Linked DNA regions of Homo sapiens. The protein of the gene in region 5 purifies or fractionates together with the protein of the main gene of each other region. This does not show direct contact. Each region holds a gene or a part of one and is shown on either strand. Other genes may lie near its edges.

Region 1 (3,500 bases), on a different chromosome or scaffold from region 5:
CCACCTCCACTGGAAGACCTGGCCAGGGTCAGGCACTTTGCTGGGCATGTGTTGGCTGCTGGCAGGATTGTGTGTCGTAGGTGAAGTTGGTGGGGTCTCATGGGGCAGGCTGACCCTCCCTCTGTTTTGGGTACAGCTCCCTGGAGGCCATCATGGGCCTGGAGAGCAGCAGTGAGCTCTTCACCATCTCTGTGAATGGCGTCCTGTACCTGCAGGTGAGTGCGGCAGGCTTGGGCATCGAGGGGCACCGCCTGGGCATGGCCACGGGTGGCTGGGTGCAGAAGGGTGCTGTTAGATGCTCAGGATCACTGGGTCGGGTGCAGCACCCTCAGACTCCAGGCCTGGGAGAGGGTCCAGGACATGCCAAGTTCTCACTTTGGTCTGGGCGCAGCCAGGCTTCAAGTCCTGATCTCCTTCCTCCAAACACAGCCCTTCCCCGAGGGCACCTGCCCGCTTGAGCAGCTGCTCCGCTCTGCATTCCCAATATTCAGACTCCCTGAGCACCTCATCCTGAGGCCCAGTACTCCTGGCCACCACAAGCCCGCTGAAGGGACTGGTGCAGGGAGGGAATGGAGGCCAGCACTCTGCCCAGGCTGACGCCCTGAGTCCCCTGTGACTATGGGAAGCCAGATACGTTATTTTCCTACCCAAAACCCTAAGTGACCATCTCTGGCACTGTGGGAATTTTGGCAAGTGGTAGAGAAATGGACATAAAGGTGGAATTTACTAACAAAGAAAACAATTGAGTGCAGGTGTGTGGAATAACAGCTGCTATTGAATTCTCCCAGAGCTTTGGAGAAGGTAGAGCTACTCCCCGAGTTAGCCCAAGTTCACACAGCAGAGCCAGAAATGGAGGCCAGGCTGTCTGGCCCAGAGTCTGTGCTTGCTGAAAGGCATTTAGAGGTCCCTTCTGGGTGCCACACAGCATGCTTGGTGAACTCAGATGGTCTCTGCCCCACCTGGATCTTAAGATGCAGATCCTGAGGCAGGTCTGGGTGGATCCCAGATTCTGCATTTCTGGGAGTTCCCAGGGAATGTGACACTGCTGGTGCATGACCACGCTGCTGGTGCATGACCACGTTTGGAGCAGCCAGGCTAGAGTGCTGGTTTCACGGAAGGCTCTGCCAAATGACTGCCTGTGGGGAAGGGCCACCCTCCCACCTGACTTGGAGCCCTTGCAGGCTCTGAGAAGCCCTGCAGCTGAGAAACCTGTTGGACTCTTGAATCCCACTCTGGCCTTGAGCAGGGGCCCACTCCCACACACGCGAACTGTAGGGCGCTGCAGGGAAAGCAGAAGAGGTGCTGGGTGGGGCCCAACCCGTGCGGGCCCTTGCTCTGTGACCTTGGCGGCCACATTCTTCTCTGGGCCTGAGCCCTTCCCAAAAGCGGGGCTGAGTGGGCAGGAGGGAGTGTGGCTGGCTGGCCCTTGGGTCACCTCTGCAGGCTGTTGGGGTGGCCCAGTGCCTCAAAGGCACCCTCCTTGCAGATGGGGCAGTGGACCTCCGTGTTCTTGGACAACGCCAGCGGCTGCTCCCTCACAGTGCGCAGTGGCTCCCACTTCAGTGCTGTCCTCCTGGGCGTGTGAGCGGCCACCACAGGCCCTTCCTCTCAGGGGCAAATGGAGCACAGATCTAGACAATGTGTGGACAGTGTCAGAGTAGCAGTGGCCACATGGAGGAGGAGGCCCACCCGGAACTCTGCCCACACTGGCCACTGCAGTTCAGCCCACAGAGCCACTGCAGGCAGGCCTACGGACGTGACACGCACGCTGGTGGTCCCGGAGCCAGGGTTGATTCAGGACACCATCTTGGGCTCTTATCCAGGAAAGAAAGAGTCGGCGTGCCTGGGGGCACCTGCTAGTCTCCAGCTGCAGGCCGACTCTTTCCTGGCCTGCTCAGCACCTGCCCAGATGGCCTCTGCGTCTTTCCTGTGCCCAGCCCCACCTTTTCCACCTCTCTTCATGTTCTCATGGAGTGCAAAGTGCACCAGCCAGGGCCCCTACCTGGGAGAGGGTCAGCTGACGCAGGGCTGAGGGGGCTGCCACAGGGACGTACGCTGTGTGTTCTTACTGCTTAGAAGGGACGGGGTCACTCACCACTCCCCTGGTCTCCATCTGGGCTCCTTGGTCTTCCCTGCCCCTCCCCTAACCGTGTTCTACCTGCCAGTGGAGCTGAGCACTGCCTAGCCTGGGCCAGAGGGGCACTGGACAAGGGCCTTTGGGGGACAGTAAGTCTGGGCCCAGCTTCTAGTTCTAATGTGTGCAAGATTAACTCACAAATTCACCTCAGAAGGCCTTTCCAAATGGGAGCTCCACTCTTCCCCTCCTCTGCAAATCTTCACAGCCAAGGCCCCTTCCACCCTCTCCAGAGGTGGATGAGATCCCTTTTCCCCTCCCCTCTGAGGTGCTGACTCACTGGTAGGAGCCACCCACCAGAGGAAAGATCTAGAACGTCTTTACAGATTGGAGACAGCCGGGCCTGCTGACCCATCATCCGAATAGCTGAAGCAGAGTCTTCCACCAGGGGTGCCAGGGCCTGGCTGGGTCCAGCGGCTCTGGGATGAGCCTCCCAAGCATCTTTCCCACTTGGGTGGCCATGCGGCGCTGACATTGGACAGGTGGTGGACGAGAGATGGTCCCGAGAAAGGGTGGTCTTGGGAGGGCTGGTCCCAAGCCTGCTGTGCTCCTGTGGCAGTGATGGGGCCTGGGGATGGGGACGGCAGCTCTCATGAGGACACACAGGCTGTGAGCCCGCAGCCTCCTCAAATGTAGCCTCCCACATTTTCCCCAAAGTACAGGACTGTCCCAGAGTAGGTAGTGAAGAGGACAAGGCCCTCGGCAGCGACCTCCAGGGCCTCCTACCTGCTGAGGAAGAGTTAACCCACTGCCTCCCCACACAACAGGCTACGAAGAACCTGGTGCCTCAGGACCTCCTGGGAGCCAAGCTGGTCTGGCAAGGGCGCTCAGGCCTGGGAGAGAAGGGAGCAATGGCCAGTCACCTTCACCTTCTAACTAACTAGCCTCCGGATGAGGTGGCTGCCACCAGGCCCGAATGATCCCCAGGAGCCCAGCTTCCAAACCCCAACATCGAATCAAACATCTCCATCCCCAAGTGCAGTAACACACAAAAACCAAACACTCTGCCCTGGGAAAGGCCTGGTGCGATTCTCAGTAGGACTCACACCCACCCTACCTAGAAGTACTGGGCTGGCCTGGGTACTGCATCCGTGTGTTTTGATAAGGGGGTGATGTGGCCACGCCCTTATCTAGATTTCACTTTGTATCCACTGGGCACAGATATTCTAGAGAACTTATCTTTCACTCTTGTAAAAGCCACATATCCACATCTCTTTCATTTTTCTCAGTGTGTTATGCAGCAATTTATTAAAGTATTTATTGTCTAATAAATACTGCCAAGTGGAATATATTTATATAACTGACTTCGTGGGGTGGTTCAAGTACTTACTTAAGAACTATGTGACACAACAGTTACAAAACAAAA
Region 2 (3,013 bases), on a different chromosome or scaffold from region 5:
TAGGGAGCATTCCACGCCTGCAGAGAGCAAGTGGCCCAGGGACCTTCGCCCAGTGATTATATGAGGCTTTTTCCAGGGACATTTCTGCCTGTCCGCAGAGTTGAGGGCCCTGCACTTGATTGTGGAGCTGGAGGGTGTGCAGTGTAGGCCAAGTGGGGCAGCTCATTGTCCCCCAACACAACAGGAGCTCCCGGATCAGGGCAAGTCAGGAACATGATGGAAACCAGGTATGGCCAGGACCTCAGGATACCTGGGTTCATATCCTGATTCCATTACTCGCTTGTTTGCTGACTTTGGACAAGGAGTAGACTCTATTTTTTTTTTTTAATTAAATAAGGGGATGGGACTAGATTGTGTCTAAGGATCTATAAACCTGACCACATATATTAGGATTCTTTATATTGTAAGAGACAGAGACCAAATTAAAATTAGCATAAGCAAACAAAGGGAATTAATTGGCCCATGTAACAAAATTATCTGGTTTCTGGCATATCTAGATTCCTCTCTCTCTCTGAGCTTTCAGCTTCTTTCCCTGTGTTGGTCTCCTTTTCTCCTGCTAAAGATGGGCTTTCTCTCCTTGGTGGGAAACACAGTCCATGGCCACCTCCAATTAATTTCATAGCATGTTGGCCCAAGAAACAAGGCTCCACTCTCAGAAATCCCAAGGGAGATTCTAAGTGGCCCAATTTGGGTCATGTGCCACCTCGGTCCAATCATAGGCTGGGCCAGTGGCACATAATGACCTCAATATCAGACCAATTGGTGGTTCCACCAGAATTATACAATAGAGTGGAAAAGGAATTATTCCCCAAGAGAAGGAGATCACTAAAGAGACTAGAAAAGAAAAATGTCCACTCTAGTATGATTATCAGATTTTGGCCTAGTATAAAAGGACCTTATTTCTTCCTCTGTACTGATTATAAACTTGAGCGGTCCAAGCCCCACTCTGATTCTGTAACCTCACTTTCTCCCAGCACTACAGGGGCCAAATATCTATTTGACTCTGGTAGTTCCTTCAGATTTGGGCTCTGACACCATTTGTAGCCTTAAAACAAGTCCCATAATTCCTTTGAAACTTTATTTCCTGCTCTGACCATTGGGGAATTTGTGCTAATTGGTATGATTTTAAAGAACTGCTCATTTTAAAGAATGCTTGATGCTCGAAATAACAAAACACAGGAAACAGCCTAAAAGTTCGCTAGGGGACAGGTTGAAAAGTTATAATGCATTCATATAATGGAATACTATGCTGATGCAAAAAAGAATCAGGACACCCATATATGCCTAACATAGAAAGATCTCCAAGATAGATGTTTGGGGGAAGAGCAAAGTGTAGAGCAGGGGTGTCCAGTCCTTTGGCTTCCTTGGGCCACAATGGAAGAAGAATTCTCTTGGGCCACACATAAAATATACTAACACTAATGATAGCTGATGAGCTTTAAAAAAAATTTCAAAAAAAATCTCAAAATGTTTTATGAAAGTTTACGAATTTATATTAGGCCACATTCAAAGCTGTCATGGGCCGTGGGTTGGACAAGCTTGGTGTAATGTGTTTGAAATTTTAACCATTTGCGTTTTAAAAGGTCATGGGGTGAAATATATTAGCTTGAATATGCCTGGTGAATATGCATTTTTAAGTCCCTGTAAAGATACACAAGAAACTGGCCAGGTGCAGTGGCTCACGCTTGTAATTCCGGCACTTTGGGAAGCCAAGACAGGCAGATTGCTCCAGTCCAGGAGTTCAAGACCAGCCTAGGCAATATAGTGAGACCCTGCCTCTACAAAAAATAAAAAAATTAGCCAGGCATGGTGGCATGTGCCTGTAGTCCCAGCTACTAGGGAGGCTGAAGCAGGAAGATTGTTTGAGCCCAGGAGGTGGAGTTTGCAGTAAGCCGATATCGCGCCACTGCACTCCAACTTCGGCGCTAGAGCGAGACCATGACTTAAAAAAAAAAAAAAAAAAAGATACACAAGAAACTAACAACAGTTCTTTTGGGAACAAGGGTGGAAACTGGGGAGATGGACAGGTATAGGAGGGAGACTTCCCTGAATGCCTTTTTGTACCTTTGAATCTTTAAATCATGTTAGATATTATTGATTTAAAAAAAATTGTTTTTCAAAAAAAGGAAAAATTGCTTAAACAAAGCACATACAAAGTCTCCTTCAGATGCAGAGCTGTATAAAAATACTCTCAGAGAATTACTGTAATCAACGTCAAATACACAAAAACTGATGATGCTGTTTTCTTACTTAGGCACTAAAAGAAGAAATCAAAGAGATGCATGGATTGCGGATATTTACCTCTGTCCCCAAACGCTGACCACGCCCTGGCTGCATAGATGCTGCTGCTTAAGACCTTGGATGAACTTCACTGACATCATTCTTCCCTAAGCAGTCACCAAAAAATTTATATATTTTGCTCATATACATTTCCATATTATAATTATAGAAGATGTATAATCTATTTAGATGTTAATTAAAGGAAACAAACAACTGAAGCTTTTGAAGGGTCATTAGTAATGTTTCAGGTTCCTTTATTTTGGCCAAAGGGGTCTTGTCTTTAGACAGTTCTGTCCTGCTACAGAGAGAGAATGCAGTGCCAGCTTTTTGTCTTTTGAAGAGGTTTTCCTGTTTCTTCCCCTCCACGAAACTGCTCAGGCCTCTTCATCTTACTGAAACAAAGAAAAGATCCTTTACTATTGCTGTTCTTTTCGTTTATCATTCTTTTCTTCCCCCTCTAAACTTCTTACATGAATGATCTTGGACCCTCAATTTCTTATGCTCTGAAATGGACTCTGAAAATTTGGGGGTGCCAGGATCCGGGTTCTTTTCCTGTGTTTGAAGATCCTCCACCCTTTGATTCTTGGTAGGAGGCAGAGCCCACCTCCCACGACAGAAGCTGAAAAGGCTTACTTTCCCTGCCTCCCTCACAGCTGAGGCACAGGCAGATATTCCAGACTCAGCCAATCAGATGGACCTGCCCTGAACTTGGGAGCAAGTCACACCGAGGAGC
Region 3 (3,500 bases), on a different chromosome or scaffold from region 5:
AGGGACCTGTCCAAAGCTGGGTTAAATATAGGATGTCTGAGAGACACCCTTCTTTCATAGTTCGAGGGTAAGCATGTAGCTGTATGTGTGTGGAGGGGCGGGTGGAGGAGGTTAGCTGTATCAGGGTAGGCATAATACTATATTTTAAATCCCTCCTTCTGTTATAAATGTAAGCTGAAAATAATCTCTGCTCCCAGCGGCAGCAATCGTAAACTCGCTTAGTTCTGCCTGTAATTTAATTTAATTTAACATGTGACATTGAGACAATGTTTCTTTTAATTCACATATAACTTCTTCCTCACCCACATTCCAGCCAAATAAACACATACTTATAGAAAAATGTGACTGTTTTCCTGGGCAACCCAACAATTCAACTGTCCCTAAAACACCAGGTTCAATTTAAACTCTATTAGCTTGTCTGAGGGCTAAGATATCTAAAAATCCAAGACAAATTATCATTTGCATATATGGAGGCAGCTCTGATTGAACAGATATCTAAAACTGATAGGTAATATTTTAGATCAAATCACTCCATCAAGTCAAAGACTAATTCAACTGTTTGTTCAGTTTCCAAAGGAATCCTTCCATTTTGGTCTAGTGTTCCATAAACATTGACTTTACATGAAAAGGACAGTGAAGAGATCTCTTGAACCGGCCAGAAAGTTGAAGCTCAAGGTTGCAGAAGATTTGAGCTACCAAGTCCAAGCCTTCTAAAAGATTCCCAATATGTATATATATCATTTTCCTAACTCTACATTTGCCTGAGAAGCAATGACATTCAATAAACTTTTTTCCACGGGATTTAGTTACAAAATAAGTTAAGGAACTACAAGTTATATATTTCCTGGAAAAATATACTATTATACATATATATTATATATTCAAAACTCCGTAAAGCATATAAAGTATAAGCATATACTGAGTTATAAGGCATAACTCAACATGTTATTTTAACCTAAAATTTTCTTAGGGCCTCAATTGCAAATGCTTTAATTGCCAATGGTTCATAAACACATCTGTGAATTAGAAGCAAGTAATATCCTCTGTTTTTATACTCTCAAAAAATGTGATTATACTTAATCAAAAGTAATTCAAACCACAGCCCAGGCAATACATACTAGACCACGTCTTCTTGGTAATTTAATTCTTAGCAATAATTTTAATTGCTGCCTAATTAAGTAGGCATGCTACTTAAATCACAATCCTGTAGTTATAAGGTTAAAACTATTTTAAAATCTCAAATGTTTTTAGATTTCAATCACTCTTCGTATTATTACAACAAAAATGTTCATTAACTGGAACACATGCAGTATCATTTTTTAGCCCCCACTTTATGATATTTTTTAATTTTTATTACCAGAGTAGTCATTTCATTATAAAATTTTAACCAAGCTAAGCATATACTCCATTTTTTAGAAAACTAGATTTACTGTAGTCCTGTTAAGGCTATCATAGTAAGCAATGAATTTCACACTTGTCTTTTATACAGTACCACAACACATCAAGCAGATATATGAATTCCTTGACAAAATACATTTAAAACAAACAATTCCATGCCTTATATGTCAAGTGGAAAAGGAATATTTTTTCTACAGTGACAGAGCAGACTTGACATGTGCACAGTCATGTACAACCAAGCGTTTGCAAATGCTCTTACAACGTGGAGCAACCGGGCCTAGGGACAAGCAACCTTTCAGCTAAGAGTCTCGTCAAAGGTGCGGAAGCCCATTACAGAAGACCAGATAACAGTCAGTCTGACGGGTTCATTCAGATATTCAAGCTTTAAAAAGTACTTCGAAGACTGATACAGATGTCCTAGGCAATAAACTTCCCAAAAAGAATGGAGAACAATCCCAGTGCCAATTACATCTTTGTCATTCAGAAATCCAGGCTAATTTGATTTAGAGACATATATAAATGAACTGTTATTTCTCATAATTGTTTTTTTTTCAGCCTCTTTATTTTTAATCTACATCTCTTAGGTAAAATGCATCAATTTAACTACACTTACTTATTCTGAGTTTTTCTATTGGTCCATGTTTCCTTTAAACACAATTTTGAATGGTTTTTTAAAGTAACCATTTGATTTTGAAACCAATTTACAGAAAACATGGAAGAACTATGCTAATATGCTGTATCACCCCTGAATACTTCAATGTACATTTCCTACAACAAAGATGTTCTCCTATATAACCATAATATGATCATCACAGTCATCATGGATAAAGTTCCAATATTTAATCCCCAATCTTGTTCAAGTTTCACCAATTCCCAATCATGTCCTTTATAACATAAGCATTTAATGCAGAATAGTATTTAGTTGCCTTGTTTTCTTAGCCTCTGTCAATCTGGAATGCCTCCTTCCTCACTCCACTCAACCTCTGACAACTTGCTATAGGTCACCACCAGTGCTGTCTCCTGTCTCTCCAGGTCCCCACCCTTGCTATACTGTGGATGCTTTCCTTACCCTGCTGGTTTCTGAATGCTCTGCCATGGTCCTGGGCCTCCCCACTACCCAGCATGGATGCCTAAGCTGAACTGAATGACCTTGGACTGAATTGTTCAAAAAGAGAAGGGGAAAGGAAGAGGAAGAAGAATGCCAAGTAATTTGATTTTTCTTTTTTCATGATCAAACCAATGTCTTGGAATTGATTATCATTTCCATGGGCTACTTCAGCTCCGTACTGTTTGTATAGAGTTTGGTGAAAATGAATAAAGGCATGTGAACTACATTTTTTGTTTTTTTTTTTTTGTTTTTTTTTGAGACAGAGTCTCACTCCGTCACCCAGGCTGGAGTGCAGTGGCACGATCTCAGCTCACTGCCTCCTCACAGGCACCTGCCACCATGCCCTGAAATTTTTTCATATTTTTAGTAGAGGCAGGGTTTCACCGTGTTGTCCAGGCTGGTTTCGAACTCCCGACCTCAAGTGATCCACCCGCCTCAGCCTCCCAAAGTGCTGAGATTACAGCTGTGAGCCACCGTGCCCAGCCTGAACTCCATTTTTTATAGAGTACCATTTGACACTAAAATTAAGAGTCTGTTACTCATCTGCAGAATCTCTCTTAAAATGGTATTACTAAAAGGTCCAAAATGAAACATCTGTAAAAATAATTATTCCTACACTCTGTGAGATCTCTTTCCTGACACATTTCACATCTAAGTGAGTTTCCTAACTAACCCACACACACTCTATAGTAGGCTTACCCTTCTTTCCCCAGGCTGGCTGGCGAACTTGCAAAACATAACCATTTAGGGGAAAAAATTGAGGCAATTAAAATTAAAAGTGTTTTAGGCTAAGTAATGAATAAATTAACCCACTGAAAAGTTACATCAAAGGCTATTACTCAGCATTTTACCAATTACAGGAATTTCTGCAAAATCTGCCCAGCCATTTGTTTGTGTATCCCTGGGATCAGTGCCCAGAGTTCAATCTTTCTCTTGATGCTTCCTGTTGTTTTCAGGGACTCAATGAGAGCAGTAAGTGACCTTTCACTCAGTG
Region 4 (3,500 bases), on a different chromosome or scaffold from region 5:
TTATCCCAGAGGAGGGGAGAGCCCAGCCCCTGGTAATTGCAGGCCTGCTTTGAACTGATAAACGGTGAGTGATTCATGTTTTCTTTGGAGTTCACATGTGCTCAGCTCCCAGCCCCGGCCCCACTGCCACTGTGAGGAGCCTGTTTTCTGGCTCCCGGGTCTTCCTTGAGCTCTGAGGCGGGGGCGGGAGTGGGGACTCCTCCCCTGCTGTTCTTGGGGCGCTGTCCGGCAAAGGCAGCTGGCAGCCTGCTAGGAGCACCCTGCAGTTCCTGCTCTGGGATTCCAGCCAAAGCTCTTTGCTTCTGAGAGCCTCGGTTTCCCCACCTGAGCAGTGGGTGTGTGCTGTGCACACACTGGGCAGGGAGTGTGTGGGGAGTGAAACAGGAGTGAAGAAGCATGGGGGGCTGCCGCACCCAGACCTGGCTGGCCCTCCGCATACCCTTCATTCATTCGCTCACTCACGGGGATTTATTGAGTCTTCCTGGGTCCCTGGCTTGGCTTGGGGATGCAGTGGCAACCACCCAGAGCCAGGCCCTGCTCTCACAGGGCAGCCATTCTGGCCGGGAGAATGGGAGCAATAAGTAATAGAGACCCTTCACGAGTCCTGTGCTGCAGATGAGAACAGGGTGACTGAGCAGGGCGGGGAGTGGAGACAGGGGCACAGAGGCCTGGGGGAGGGGCAGGCAGCCCCACACTGCATGTGGGCACCAGGCACAGAGGCTGATGGGACTGTGCCCAGCTCCCTGGTAGACTTGGAGAAGGCATCCATCTTCAGGCCTCAGCTTCCCCATCTGTAAAATGGGGCCAGACCATACAAGGGGTGTCTGGGATGGTCTGTGCAAACTGGCTGGCTGAGGCTTGAACTCAAGACTCAGGACTCAGCCTTGCTGTAGCCGGCTCCAGCCAGGAGTGGGTGAGAGGCCCCAGCACATCAGGCACATCCAGGGCAGCAGGCCCTACTGACAACCAAGGGGGTGGCACTGCTGACTATGCCTTGTGGGCAGGTGTGCCCTTTCCTCTTTCATCCATGAGAAAAGAGCTTTCATGCCCCTTTTGCAAATGGGGAAACTGAGGCTAGGAAAAGGGAGTGTCCCCATCAGAGTCATCTGCCTACAGAGTAACAGGGTCTAGATTTAGCCCAGTGCTTGGCTGCCAGTTGCTAGGCAGGGTGTGGTGAGACTTTTCCAGAGGCAGTGGAGGCCAGGACAGGATATGGGGACTCCCGCCAGGATCTGGGCAGCGCTGACCTCGTGTGCAGGTCAGAAGAGTGGCCTTAGCCTCTGCATAGGGACCTGGCTGTAGGTGGTTGTGGGTGGAGGGAGCCGAGTACCCTGGCAATCCAGGAAGGAGGGGTGGGCATTTTGTGGAGTTTGGGGTGGAGTCAATGGACCTTGGTAGTGAGTGTGACCAGGAAGTGAGGGCCCGATGTGGAGCAAGGCAGGAGGGGGCCACACAGGTCTGGGTGGGTATGGGGTGCTGAGGCTGGGAAGGGGTCACTGTGGAGGGGTGGAGTGCAGGGAGCACCTGCCAGCCTTCCCTGTGGAGGAATTCCTCTTTCCTTGGAGTTGGGTGTGAGGCTGGGAGCAGGACTGGTGGCTTGGATAGAGTGCTGAGAGTCAGGGCTGGTGGGCCAGGGAGCCTGGGAAGGGGCCGTGTGGCGGGGCACCCGTCGGCTGGGGTGGGGATGTGGGTGGGACACATTGCCTGGCTTCTGGACTGCAGGTCTCAAGGTTTATCCAGCATGGGGCTTGGGGTCCCACCGAGAGCAGCCCAGGCTGCCACCTATCCACAGTGAGAACTGCTGCCTGTGTGGCCTGGGCCTCCATGTCCTCCGTGGTGCCTCTGCTGTGGGCTGTCAGGGCGTGTTCGGGGGAGAGGCAGGGCTGTGGAGGTGGGAGTGAGCACTAAAGCCCATCTATGTCAAGCTTCTGTAGGGGACGGTGGTGGAGTATGTCCCCACCAGCCTCAGGCAGGGAGCTGGTGCCCACCCTGGGAGTACAGAGCTGTGGGGAGGGTCCTGCTCCCCAGTGCATAGGGAGGCTCTGGGTGAAGGCTGCTCTCCAGGTTGGTGTCAGATGTTGGTGTCAGCTGGGGTCCCATTCCACACCTCAGGCCCTTGTCACCTGCCTTCCTGTTCCTGGCCTCCGCCAGTGATGGCAGGGCACAGGTGCCAACGGAGTGACCTCTTGCCAGGTGTCCTGGGGATACCTGGTGCACCCCACAGCTTATAGGGCCTCAGGCCAGGGAGGTGCCCAGTTTGCCCCTGGCTCCTCCTGGTGGGTCAGGTTCTGCCTCCTGGAGGTGCAGTGGGCACGCCCAGCACTGGAAGGGCTCACACTGGGAGATCATAATATCATGGGATGGGCCATGCCTGCATTCACATGCCCTCTTCTGCCCCTTCCCCAGGGCTGAAGCTCCTGGCACCATGATGCTCACCCCAGCAGGACCAGAGCACCGAGGCCCAAGGCCCCAGCCTGCCATGCCGCTGCCACCGCGGAGCCTGCAGGTGCTCCTGCTGCTGCTGCTGTTGCTGCTGCTGCTGCCGGGCATGTGGGCTGAGGCAGGCTTGCCCAGGGCAGGCGGGGGTTCACAGCCCCCCTTCCGCACCTTCTCGGCCAGCGACTGGGGCCTCACCCACCTAGTGGTGCATGAGCAGACAGGCGAGGTGTATGTGGGCGCAGTGAACCGCATCTATAAGCTGTCGGGGAACCTGACACTGCTGCGGGCCCACGTCACGGGCCCTGTGGAGGACAACGAGAAGTGCTACCCGCCGCCCAGCGTGCAGTCCTGCCCCCACGGCCTGGGCAGTACTGACAACGTCAACAAGCTGCTGCTGCTGGACTATGCCGCTAACCGCCTGCTGGCCTGTGGCAGCGCCTCCCAGGGCATCTGCCAGTTCCTGCGTCTGGACGATCTCTTCAAACTGGGTGAGCCACACCACCGTAAGGAGCACTACCTGTCCAGCGTGCAGGAGGCAGGCAGCATGGCGGGCGTGCTCATTGCCGGGCCACCGGGCCAGGGCCAGGCCAAGCTCTTCGTGGGCACACCCATCGATGGCAAGTCCGAGTACTTCCCCACACTGTCCAGCCGTCGGCTCATGGCCAACGAGGAGGATGCCGACATGTTCGGCTTCGTGTACCAGGATGAGTTTGTGTCATCACAGCTCAAGATCCCTTCGGACACGCTGTCCAAGTTCCCGGCCTTTGACATCTACTATGTGTACAGCTTCCGCAGCGAGCAGTTTGTCTACTACCTCACGCTGCAGCTAGACACACAGCTGACCTCGCCTGATGCCGCCGGCGAGCACTTCTTCACGTCCAAGATCGTGCGGCTCTGTGTGGACGACCCCAAATTCTACTCGTACGTTGAGTTCCCCATTGGCTGCGAGCAGGCGGGTGTGGAGTACCGCCTGGTGCAGGATGCCTACCTGAGCCGGCCCGGCCGTGCCCTGGCCCACCAGCTGGGCCTGGCTGAGGACGAGGACGTGCTGTTCACTGTGT
Region 5 (3,597 bases):
CATGGTGGCATGCGCCTGTAGTCCCAGCTACTTGGGAGGCTGAGGAAGAAGAATTGCTTGAACTCGGGAGGTGGAGGTTGCAGTGAGCCGACATAGTGCCACTACACTCCAGCCTGGGTGACAAAGCGAGACTCCGTCTCAAAAAAAAAAAAAGAGCGAATGGGGCTTGAAGGCTACAGACAAGAGGTTAGGACGCCATTTTGGATTTATCTTTTCCTGGAGGGCATCTGATCTTCTCCCATGGATTTAGTTACTGGTTCAGGTGTGGAACTCTGAACTGAAGAGATGGAGGCTCAGTAAAGCACACAGGGAGTGTGATAATGAGAATTGAAGTGGACTGTGTGACACGCCAAGGACCAGAGCATGCAGGTGTGCAGAGATGTGGACCCAACGCTGCCTGCCATGTGGGATGTAGCCTCATGTCTCGGGCTGGGAAGAGAAGGGAATCCAACCAAGGGAAGTCAACATTAATAGAAAGGAAAGGTGTCACATTTTAATGGTCCTCCATGGATCACCCCAGACCAGTGTCTCTGCACTCAAACACCCATTCCTCCCTCTAGAAATTGCCAGAGGCTGAGGCAGGAGAATCACTTGAACCCGAGAGGCGGAGGTTGCAGTGAGCCCAGATTGCGCCACTGCATTCCAGCCTGGTGACAGAGCAAGACTCCATCTCAAAAAAAAAAAAAAAAAAAAAAAAGAAAGAAAAGAAAAGAAAGAAAAAAAGAAATTGCCAGCAGACAGTCCAGATGGCATAGGCCTCAGATGGTCTTCCCGAACCTCCTAGGACCATCAGATTCGCTTCCAAGGCTCCAGCATTCAATGGTGCATTGTTCTCTCTTCTGTTCACCTTCCAGCTGCAGCTTGGGGGCTTCTCTGGCTGTGCCAATCCTGAAATATCAGAATCCCAAGGACCACCAGGATCAAGCCGGCCATGCCCATGCGGATGAGATTCTCTACTGCGTAATCCTGAAGGTGTGAGGCTGGGGATGGTGGACAAAGAGGTCACAGAGGTCAGGGCAGATCAGTATCACCCAGGACCCCTGGATGTCTCCCCAGGGCACCCATATCATCTTGACAGGACCTGACCCTCTGTGCCAGTTCCATAACTGAGAGCATCTCCTCACTCACCAGTCCCAGAGTCAGACTTGTTTTGTGACGGACTGAGGTTATCAGCTGCTCCTGAAAATCAAAACAGGGGAAGGGGAAGGAGAAGTTCTTGAAGCAATCTGAGCCCAGCCTCTCCCCTGAGCTCTGCATTCTCCTAGTTCCCTGTGCCTCTCAACATGACTTTTATGGAGTTCCTCCATAAACCCTCCCTCTGCTGGAGCAGGGTTCCCTCCAGTCTCCTCACTGAATTATTTCAGCTTTCCTTTGTTCTTTGAATTTAAACTTTGCTCCTGAGTCATTTGGGAAAGAGCTTTCCTGCACCGTGAAAGCTCAGGATCTGCAAGGAAAGTGGCCCCCAGAAGTCACTGAGCCCTTTGTGCTCTCTGTGCAGCCTGGGACACAGGAGCACATAAGCCAATTCCCCCAGAGATGAGAGTTTCACGGATCCACCAGCTGAGGACCCAGGCTCCATGGATGACGGGTTGGTCCTCAGGGGCTCCTGAAAGTCAGAATCACAAACAGCTGCCTCCCCTTGACGCCACCTCAACCACCTCACCTGGTGTTTCATCATACAATAAGTCTCTAGTCAGCTAACTATTCATATAGTCAGTCATATATATATACGTATGTATATAAATGTGTGTGTGTGTGTGTGTGTGTATATATATGTATATATAAATATATATATATATATATATATATATATATATATATATATATATATATATATATGGTGTTACAGAGGCTCATAAAACAATTTCTGCTTTTAGGGCCAGGCGTGGTGGCTCATGCCTGTAATCCCAGCACTTTGGGAGGCCAAGGCGGGCAGATCACGAGGTTAGGAGTTCGAGACCAGCCTGGCCAACATGGTGAAACCCCGTCTCTACTAAAAATAAAAAAATGAGCCGGGCATGGTGGCACCTGCCTGTAATCCCAGCTACTTGGGAGGCTGAGACAGGAGAATCACTTGAACCTGGGAGGCAGAGGTTGCAGTGAGCCCAGGTCATGCCATTGCACTCCAGCTTGGGCAACAGGGCAAGAGACTCCATCTCAAACAAACAAACAAAAATTTCTGCTTTTATAAAGTGTGAGTCTAGGTGAGAAGACCAATAACAAACATGTAAAAGCCCTCCATGTCAAATACATTAAGCATGTAGATATACGTATAAAAAATATATGCAGATATACCTACACTTATATTCAGATGTAACTTATATAACCATACATAAATATGTATATATGTAAAACTTTAGATATTTATTTAAGATGCAGTTACATGCATATTAATACTTGAAGTGACAAAAATTGATATGCGGTTTAGAAATAAAAAATAAAATTTCAATTTTCTTATAGTTAATATAAATTTTATCAGTAAATTTGGGGAGATCAGTTGAAAGATAATTGAAAGGGAAAAATGTTATAGCAAGCTAAAATGAAATTAAATGAATATACTCAAACTAAAAGCTTTCTCATGTGTATATCTTACTTAGAAATATAAATGAATCAGGCTGGGCATGGTGGCTCACGCCTGTAATCCCAGCACTTTGGGAGGCCTAGGTGGGTGGATCACGAGGTCAGGAGATCGAGACCATCCTGGCTAACACAGTGAAACCCCATCTCTACTAAAAATACAAAAAAATTAGCCCGGCATGGTGGTGGGTGCCTGTAGTCCCAGCTACTCGGGAGGCTGAGGCAGGACAATGGCGTGAACCCAGGAGGCGGAGCTTGCAGTGAGCCGAGATCGCGCCACTGCACTCCAGGCTGGGCGACAGAGCAAGACTCCATCTCAAAAACAAAAACAAACAAACAAACAAAAGAAATATACATGAATCAAATACTTCACTTAAGAATAAAGTAGTTGAAGAATTTTTTAAATTAGACTAAATGTACACATTCTTATGAACGGAACTTGAAAACACTTATTAACTTCATTAATAAACTTCAATTTTATATATTAATAATAGAAATACTTGCTATTAACAACTAATTTTATACAGCAAATGTAAATATTGAATTATGCCCCCAGGACAATGGGAGTGGAATTACTTGTTTTTAAATCATAAATCCATATATCTTAAAGAGACAAATTTAAATATTCAAATATTGTTTTAAAAGATTCAGAAGAAGAGAGAAAAAATAAACAAGTATGCCCAGAAAATGCAGAGCAGCAATGAACAGCAGACAAGACGTGCTGTGAATAAGTTCCTAACTTCCTCCAGGGAGCAGGTGCGCGGCCCCTCCTTTGTCTCAGGGGTGCCCTGAGCACAGAGGCCTCCAGGTGAGCACAGGAGGGGCGGTGTGAGTGGTACCCACAGCTGGGGCGCTTCTCTCTAAAGGAGCAGGTCTGGCGTGGACTCCAGCCTCATCACCGTCAGATCCCACCGAGGCCTGAGCAGCCTCCTCCCCTGTCCTGAGTGGGCTCAGGGACCCCGCAGGTGTGGGTGAGGGGCTCCATCCTCAGGGGCTCTTGGAAATGAGAAGTGAGAGCTG
Region 6 (3,500 bases), on a different chromosome or scaffold from region 5:
GAGAGAACTGGATCTCGTATGTCCACAGGCACCTGGGGAGGTCAGGCCAAGAACAAGGCTGGGGTCAAGACAGTCCTCAAAGGTGGGAGCAGGCAGGGCACGGCCGCGTGGACCCACAGCCTCATTCCCTCAAGCCCCTCGGCGGCACCTCCCCAGCCCCTGGGCACTCTTCCTGCCCAGGCAGGAGAGGGCTGGAGCCCGAATGTCCATCTCATGTCCCCTAGGAGAACCCACACCCCACTGGCAGGGCCTGGCGCGTGGCCCACAGTGTGTGGGGTGAAGGGCAGGGACGCAGGGCGGCGAGGGAGGGAGCCGATGGGCCACGGCAAGTGGCCCGAGTGACCGCATGGGTGAAGGGGTCGGGACCCAGGGACCTGCCTAGGACCAGGCAGAGGGAGGGGCGGCCCCACTCACGCACTTGGAGCCCACGTGTTCATCCGACCAGACCAGAACCAGCTGCCCTTGGGTCAGGGGCAGGGCGCGGAGCCGCGTGACCTGGGGGAGGGAAGGGCTGTGATGGCGTCGGGGAAGGGGAGTCCGGGCCGCGGCGCGGGTTAGGGGACTGCCACTTGCCTGCCCGGGCGGCTTCTCGGGGCGCGCACACACGTGCACCAGCAAAAGCGACGGCAGCCGCAGCGCGGGGCGCAGGGTCAGGCGGCCGCCGGCGGGTAAGGGGCGGGGCGCCGCGGCCACCGGGTCCTGGGCGCAGTGGCCGGTCCTCAGGGTTCTCCAGGGGAGCTGGGGACGCTCGGCCCGACCTCAGGGCGAACGCCCCCGGCCCACCGCTCCACCTCCCACCCACACCGCCTCGGAGCCCCCGCCCCGGACCCCACCCCCCCGGGACCCCGGCCCGGCCCGGCCCCTCGCCCCTCCGCGGCCCACCTACCTCAGCCGCGCGCATGCGCCGGAACTGCTCTGCCGTGGGGAAGACGGGCCGGCCCAGGCGCCGCCACTCGCCGTCGGGGCTGCAGAGCCCGTTGTCCAGGTAGCGCGTGACGTAGACCAGGCCTGCGGGGCCTGACACTCAGGCCTCGGCTCCCCGGGCCGCCCCCTCCAGAGCCCCAGCGGGGCCAGAGACCTCCCTGGAACCCCGGCTTACCCGGGCCGGGGGGCACCCCGCGCAGCCGCAGGGTCACCGCGACGCTGCGGTTGGGGTGGGCGCGGGTGTCGTCGCTCGCGTAGATCAGCACCGCGGCGCGCCAGGCGTCGGCCGGGCCCTGGGGGCGGTGGGCGCTGGCCAGGACGCCCACCGTGTGGTTGCTGTCCAGGACGGTCCCGGCCTGCGACACTTCGGCCCAGAGCTGCTCCTCATCTGCGGGGCGGGGGGGGGCCGTCGCCGCGTGGGGTCGTTGCCCAGCCGCCCCCCGACCCAGGGCCGGGCCTCCCACCACTCGCTCCCCCTCCCCTTGGTGAAGGAGTCCCCAGGCCCCGCCACGCGGAGGCCGACCCCGGGAAGCGCGCGGCTGGAGGAAGTGCGCTCCCCGCAGCGGGGCCTTCGCAGGAGCCGCTCCCCAGCCTGGAGGGCCCTGGCCGGCCCACCCCAGCGGCCCCGGCTCACCCAGCAGCGCCAGCAGCCCCATGGCCGTGAGCACCGGCTTGCGCAACAGCTGCACGTGCGGCGGGCGGGTGTTGTTGACCTGGAAGCGCGCGGTGAGCGTGCGCTGCGCGAAGGGGTGCGGGTGGTAGCTCAGGAAGGCATTGTCGTTGCTCAGGAGCGCGTAGGGGAAGGCGGAGGTGGTGTTGGCCAGTAGCAGGTTCTGATGCTGCGCGATGACCTGCGGGTGTCCAGGGCAGCTGGGACCGGGTGGCGCGGCCACCGCTCGCCTGTCCCGTCTCGGGAGGAAGGTGGCCGGGGGGCGCGCAGGGCGTTGGGCCGGCCCACCTTCACCACCATGGCCGCGTAGGTCACGTCCGCCCTCCACGGCTGTGGCAGGGACCAGCCCACCAGCGGGTCCGCCTCGTCGTTGTAAATGGGGGTGTCCGCGAACTTGGGGAAGAGCTGCCGGATCTGCTGCGCGACGACCTTCTCCTGCTCCAGGATGGAGATGGAGCTGCGCGCACCCTGCGGGCGGGGCCGCCTCAGCACCACCAGGGTCAGCGCGGCCCGGGGCACAGCGGCTGAGGGCGCAGAACACCGGGGCGGACGGAGGGGCAGGGCGCACCTTCCTGTGGAGGGAGATGTAGTCCAGCCGCACGCCCGCCTCCCCAGTGAAGAAGTTGGTACCGTCGTGGCAGTGGCGCAGGAGGCCCCAGCTCAGCGGGGATCGCGGTGGGGTGTGGAAGGAGTCGCCGGGGCCTCCCAGCCGCAGGGCGGGGCTGGCGGCGCGCAGACCCTCCGAGCAGGCATCGTAGTAGTTCAGGAAGCCTGGGCCGGGGGAGCACTGCGTCTACACCTGCCCTGGGGATGAGCGGCTTAGCCTCTGCTCCTGCCTTCCTCTGCCCCCTTTCAGCCGGGCAGGACCCCAGGAAGCGGTGCACACCTTGCATGGTCATGGAGACGTTGTCAAAGTCGTGGTGGTCTGGCTCATTCCACGTCTCGAAGTTCCACTTGGAAACATGCGCCAGTCCGTACCTACCTGCAGAGGAGCCTTGCTGTCCCCCCAGCACAGGTGAATCTCGCCTCAGTGACTCCCACGGAGGGAGGGTGCAAGGTGATGAAGGGCGTCTGACTCAAGATGAACCCCATCTCCATGCAGGCCAGCCTCCCGCCCCACATCAGGAAGCGCTGGCTCAAGGGGGTCCAAGACCTGGGCGGCGGCCTGGGTGATAGGGGTGCGGCCTGGGTGATAGGGGTGCAGCCTGCCCAGGAGTACCCCCCACCCCAGGGGCCCAGGGCCTTCGCCCACCCACCAAGCCCAGGAGTACCCCCCAGCCTGGGGCCCCAGGGCCTGCGCCGACCACCAACCTATCCCTTGTCACCCCCATCCCCCCACAAGGGCCTGCGCCTGCCCACCAATGTATCTCCTGACCAGGCAGCAGCCTGCGTGATAGGGGTGCAACCTGCCCAGGAGTACCCCCGCCCCGGCCAGGGCCCCAGGGCCTGCGCTCGCCCACCGATGTATCTCCTGGCCAGGCTGGAGACCAAGTCCTTCCACTCAAACACCTGCTGCTTGTCCTCAAAGTCAGTGAAGTGGCCCGAGGCGCTGCCCATCAGCTCAAACCCTGGAACACAGGAGGGCTGCCCCACCGCCCACCACACACCACACCCATGCTCTGCCAGGCCTGTGCTCCGGCACCAAGGCCAGCCCTGAATGGACATCCAAGGACTCAGAGGGGCTGGGTGAGGGAGAGGGTGGGCAGGGCAAGGGGGTGCAGGCGGGCTGGGAGGGCAGAGCCCACAGCTCACCTGGGAGGAGCTGGTTCTCCCTGAGAAGGTCCAGGTACCCGTCCAGGTGGGTGAAGTTGTAGCTCAGGCCCCGTCCAGTGGACCCCCTGCAGAAGGACGGTCAGCGTCAGGAAGCAGGGTGCCCACACAGCTCCATGCTCCAGGCTGGAACCGT
Region 7 (3,500 bases), on a different chromosome or scaffold from region 5:
TGTTCAGGTTGTGGCCCAAAACACTAAAAGATCAAGTATGTTGCTAAACACACAGAAACCAGCCCCAACCCTGAGCCAAATTCCTTAAACCCTCCTATAAACTGCAGCCCTCCTGTGTAAGTTCCCCTAATAAATCCTTTAGACTGATCACCCTGGCATTTAGTGCCTCTTTTTTTGGACTCTCATCTGGCCCTATCTGGAACAGTTTGGGGCAGTCCCTTGTGGAAACTCCCCCGCCACCACTTTTGAGGCAACTCCAGCTGTGGGTTCAGCCAGTAAGAATAGCAGTATAGTATTAAAATCCTGTGATGGCCAGGAAGCAGCCTTATTGATAAAGATAAAAACTCAACGGTGCCATAGACTTTTTGCAGTGTTTCTGAAAGGTTTTCCATTAGGAAAATACCTTGTGCCTACAAAAACAGTATGTAAAATAGACTGATATTATTTAATTAGATATAGAAATACCTGTTTTCTTATCAGATGAAAGTATGATGGAAAAGAACAGGTTAAAAACACTCTAATATGGCTTGAAAAAACTAACTCAAAGTTACATGAATCCGCAGTCTCTTCAACAAAACATAATATTTATTTATATACTGGATAGACACAGCCTAGAAAGGATTTCTTAAAAAGCACAGAATAGTCCTCTGTGAAGATTTAAACAATAAAATATGTGAAGAAAGAAGACTGCCTTAATTAATTTCTGGAAATAATGCTCCTTACCTTATTTAATACGTTGCTTACTTCACTAGCAAAATCTCTTGAACATACTTCTAAATGAAAAATTTTGCCACAGTTTGATACACATGCTCCTAGAAGCTAAAAGCACAAAATCAGAAGTTAAAGGGGCTCAATTGTGGCAGGTAATTTCGTGGTACAGATTAAAATGAAACCACTCACAGTCAAAGCCTGCATAGCAACGTGAGGATCTTTGTGGTTCACTCTTCTCATAATAGACCGAAGACAATCCTTAGGTCTAAAAAAATGAGAAAAGTAAAAATTACTTAATAATACATCTAGCTTCCCCCTGCCCCTTAACTGTTATAGACAAAAGACTACGATAAAAAGGGAGACTATGATAAAGTAGGGAAATTTAATTTTTATTAATAACACGGTTGAAAAACTGTAAACTAGTTCCTTTAAATTTTTCAAACAAAATTAACAGGCTCTCTTATTAGTAATCGTAGATGAGGCATTTCAGGCTAATTCTGGGTAGGAAAAAAAAAAAGGTTTGAAAATAAAATGGTAGGCCATGACTTCCACTTCCAGCCAGGGTGGAAAAACAGACCAGACTTACACTCCCGTTGTAAACAATTAGAAAACTGGAAAAACAGATTTTCCACACTGAGGTTAACTTTTTAAAGACATGAGGCCACAGGCAGTACTGAATGATAATATCCAAGAAGGAAAATGAATTAGATAAGCCAGAAGTTTGCCTCAACTTTCTGCCTAGAGGCACTTTCCAAGTATCAGTGAAGACCTTCTGAAAAACCCACGCATGCACAGGTGAAAAACTCCATGAAACTGGTCAAAAAGTGACCGAGGGCGATATGCTAAAGAGATCCAACGCTCACACAGTCGTCAGAGATGAGGCCACAGTGAAGCATCTATTGAAAATCCAGAGGATTCAGTGGATATACAGGGGAGTTTAGACCCTAGCAATGCAGCTCAATCATACCTACATACTGCCTAACAACATAAGCCACAGACGAATGTAACCACTTCTGAAAAAATAAAGTCCAATACTCCTTAACAGGAATACAACACCTGATGCTCAAAAATATAAAATTCAAAGTACTAAGCATTCAATAAAATGATATGAAGACATGATATGAAGAAGAAAACTACCATACACAACTAGCAGAAAATTCAGTCAACTGAGAATGCAGAAATAACAAAGATGATGAAATTAGCAGTCAAGGACTTTATATAAGCTATTATAAGCATGCTGGAAATCATCCACATAATGATGAAGAAATATATTAAAAAGGGCCCAGATAAAAGTCTAGAGACAAAAAAATATGTAAAATTAAAAAGTGGATGGAATTAATCAGGTAAGAATGAAAGATCAGTAAATTTGAAAATATGCTGAAAGTACCCAAACTGAAGTACAGAGAGAAAAAAAATGAAAAAATTTAACACAGAGCCACCACTACAAATATTTTTAAGAGAAAAATGAAAATAAAATAGCTTGGGTGCAGCAGCTCACACCTATAATTCCAGCATTTTGGGAGGCCGAGGTGGGCAGATGGCTTGAGTCCGGAAGTTTGGGACCAGCCTGGGCAACACTGTGAAACCCTATCTCTACAAAAAATAATACAAAAATTAGCCAGAAATGGTCCCAGCTCCTATGGGCGCAGTGAATGGCCTGAGGTGGGAGGTTCACTTGAGCCCCAGAGGTCGAGGATGCAGTGAGCTGTGATGGCACCACCGTACTCCATCCTGAGAGACAGAGTGAGACCCTGTCTCAAAACAAAGTTTTAAATCAAAAAAATAAAACCATAAAAACCATTTGATTGATACACAAAAGACAGAAAGAGAAAACAGAAGAAACATAACCAATCATCTAGAAAAATGGCAGATTAAGATTGTAATCCAACTACACTTTTATCTATTCACTACCGTTAGCAGTTTTCATAACAAGGAATACTAACAGGGATAAAGAGAGACAGTACATAATAATAAAACGGTTAAGTCCCCCAAGGAAACATAATTCTAAATGTGCATGAACACAAAAATAGAACTTCAAAATATATAAAGGAAACATCGATACAGCCGAAAGGAAACACAGACAAATCTACTGGAAACTTCAACATGCCCCCTCAATGACTTGATAACACAAGAAAAAAAAGTACTGATATGGAATACCTGAATGACACTATCATGAAACTTGACCTGACTGGCATTACACAACAATCCACCCACCCATGGCATTATACACATTTTTTTTCATGTGCATGGAAAATTCAACAAAATGGACTACATTCTGTCCTATAAAACAAACACTGATAAATTTAAAAGGACTAAAGTCATACAAAGTACATTCTTTGACCATAACAAAATTAAACTACAAATTGATAACAAAATGATAGCATAAAAATACCCAAATATTTGGAAATCAAATAACAAATATCTAAGGCTTACAACAAATGAAATCACAGAACCATAATTTCCCTTAAGGACATGAAAATGAAAGCATACTACCCAGTACTCTTTATAAGAATGTTCACAGAGGCTCTGTTCAGAGTCAAAACCTGGATACAATCCAAATGCCCATCAACAGATGAATGGATAAATTGTAATATATTAACACAATGTAATACCTCTTCCCCAAGAAACAGGAATATTGATACATACAAAAATTTGAATTCATCTTAGAAACACATTTAGTGCTAGACACAGGAGTACTGACAATACTATTTCATTTTATGAAATTCTAGAAAAGGAAATTTAATCTATAGTGACAATGCATATTAGTACTTGCATAAGGTGGAAGGAAC

What was found.
Region 1: the proteins of LILRA5 (region 5) and ERFE purify together in Homo sapiens (affinity purification with mass spectrometry; one large-scale study listed by BioGRID and IntAct). This does not show direct contact.
Region 2: the proteins of LILRA5 (region 5) and BOLA3 purify together in Homo sapiens (affinity purification with mass spectrometry; one large-scale study listed by BioGRID and IntAct). This does not show direct contact.
Region 3: the proteins of LILRA5 (region 5) and CNTNAP3B purify together in Homo sapiens (affinity purification with mass spectrometry; one large-scale study listed by BioGRID and IntAct). This does not show direct contact.
Region 4: the proteins of LILRA5 (region 5) and PLXNA1 purify together in Homo sapiens (affinity purification with mass spectrometry; one large-scale study listed by BioGRID and IntAct). This does not show direct contact.
Region 6: the proteins of LILRA5 (region 5) and IDUA purify together in Homo sapiens (affinity purification with mass spectrometry; one large-scale study listed by BioGRID and IntAct). This does not show direct contact.
Region 7: the proteins of LILRA5 (region 5) and STAM purify together in Homo sapiens (affinity purification with mass spectrometry; one large-scale study listed by BioGRID and IntAct). This does not show direct contact.

Annotation. Positions count from the first base shown.
Region 1 is NC_000002.12:238,165,470-238,168,969, forward strand, and holds the end of ERFE (erythroferrone precursor), read left to right. Parts: intron 1-136; coding exon 137-215; intron 216-1,486; coding exon 1,487-1,585; 3' UTR 1,586-3,421; downstream 3,422-3,500. UniProt on the Homo sapiens protein: Iron-regulatory hormone that acts as an erythroid regulator after hemorrhage: produced by erythroblasts following blood loss and mediates suppression of hepcidin (HAMP) expression in the liver, thereby promoting increased iron absorption and mobilization from stores.
Region 2 is NC_000002.12:74,134,900-74,137,912, reverse strand, and holds the end of BOLA3 (bolA-like protein 3), read left to right. Parts: intron 1-2,254; coding exon 2,255-2,320; coding exon of another isoform or gene 2,321-2,391; 3' UTR 2,392-2,513; downstream 2,514-3,013. UniProt on the Homo sapiens protein: Acts as a mitochondrial iron-sulfur (Fe-S) cluster assembly factor that facilitates (Fe-S) cluster insertion into a subset of mitochondrial proteins. Probably acts together with NFU1.
Region 3 is NC_000009.12:42,122,927-42,126,426, forward strand, and holds part of CNTNAP3B (contactin-associated protein-like 3B precursor), read right to left. Parts: intron 1-3,500.
Region 4 is NC_000003.12:126,986,115-126,989,614, forward strand, and holds part of PLXNA1 (plexin-A1 precursor), read left to right. Parts: intron 1-2,406; 5' UTR 2,407-2,479; coding exon 2,480-3,500. UniProt on the Homo sapiens protein: Coreceptor for SEMA3A, SEMA3C, SEMA3F and SEMA6D. Necessary for signaling by class 3 semaphorins and subsequent remodeling of the cytoskeleton. Plays a role in axon guidance, invasive growth and cell migration.
Region 5 is NC_000019.10:54,306,570-54,310,166, forward strand, and holds the end of LILRA5 (leukocyte immunoglobulin-like receptor subfamily A member 5 isoform 1 precursor), read right to left. Parts: intron 1,180-3,597; coding exon 1,129-1,179; intron 981-1,128; coding exon 844-980; 3' UTR 501-843; downstream 1-500. UniProt on the Homo sapiens protein: May play a role in triggering innate immune responses. Does not seem to play a role for any class I MHC antigen recognition.
Region 6 is NC_000004.12:1,000,544-1,004,043, reverse strand, and holds part of IDUA (alpha-L-iduronidase isoform a precursor), read right to left. Parts: intron 3,433-3,500; coding exon 3,347-3,432; intron 3,163-3,346; coding exon 3,055-3,162; intron 2,577-3,054; coding exon 2,481-2,576; intron 2,366-2,480; coding exon 2,163-2,365; intron 2,063-2,162; coding exon 1,883-2,062; intron 1,776-1,882; coding exon 1,559-1,775; intron 1,313-1,558; coding exon 1,100-1,312; intron 1,009-1,099; coding exon 887-1,008; coding exon of another isoform or gene 700-886; coding exon 574-699; intron 496-573; coding exon 419-495; exon of another isoform or gene 415-418; intron 33-414; coding exon 1-32.
Region 7 is NC_000010.11:17,682,151-17,685,650, reverse strand, and holds part of STAM (signal transducing adapter molecule 1), read right to left. Parts: intron 977-3,500; coding exon 901-976; intron 820-900; coding exon 724-819; intron 1-723. UniProt on the Homo sapiens protein: Involved in intracellular signal transduction mediated by cytokines and growth factors. Upon IL-2 and GM-CSL stimulation, it plays a role in signaling leading to DNA synthesis and MYC induction. May also play a role in T-cell development.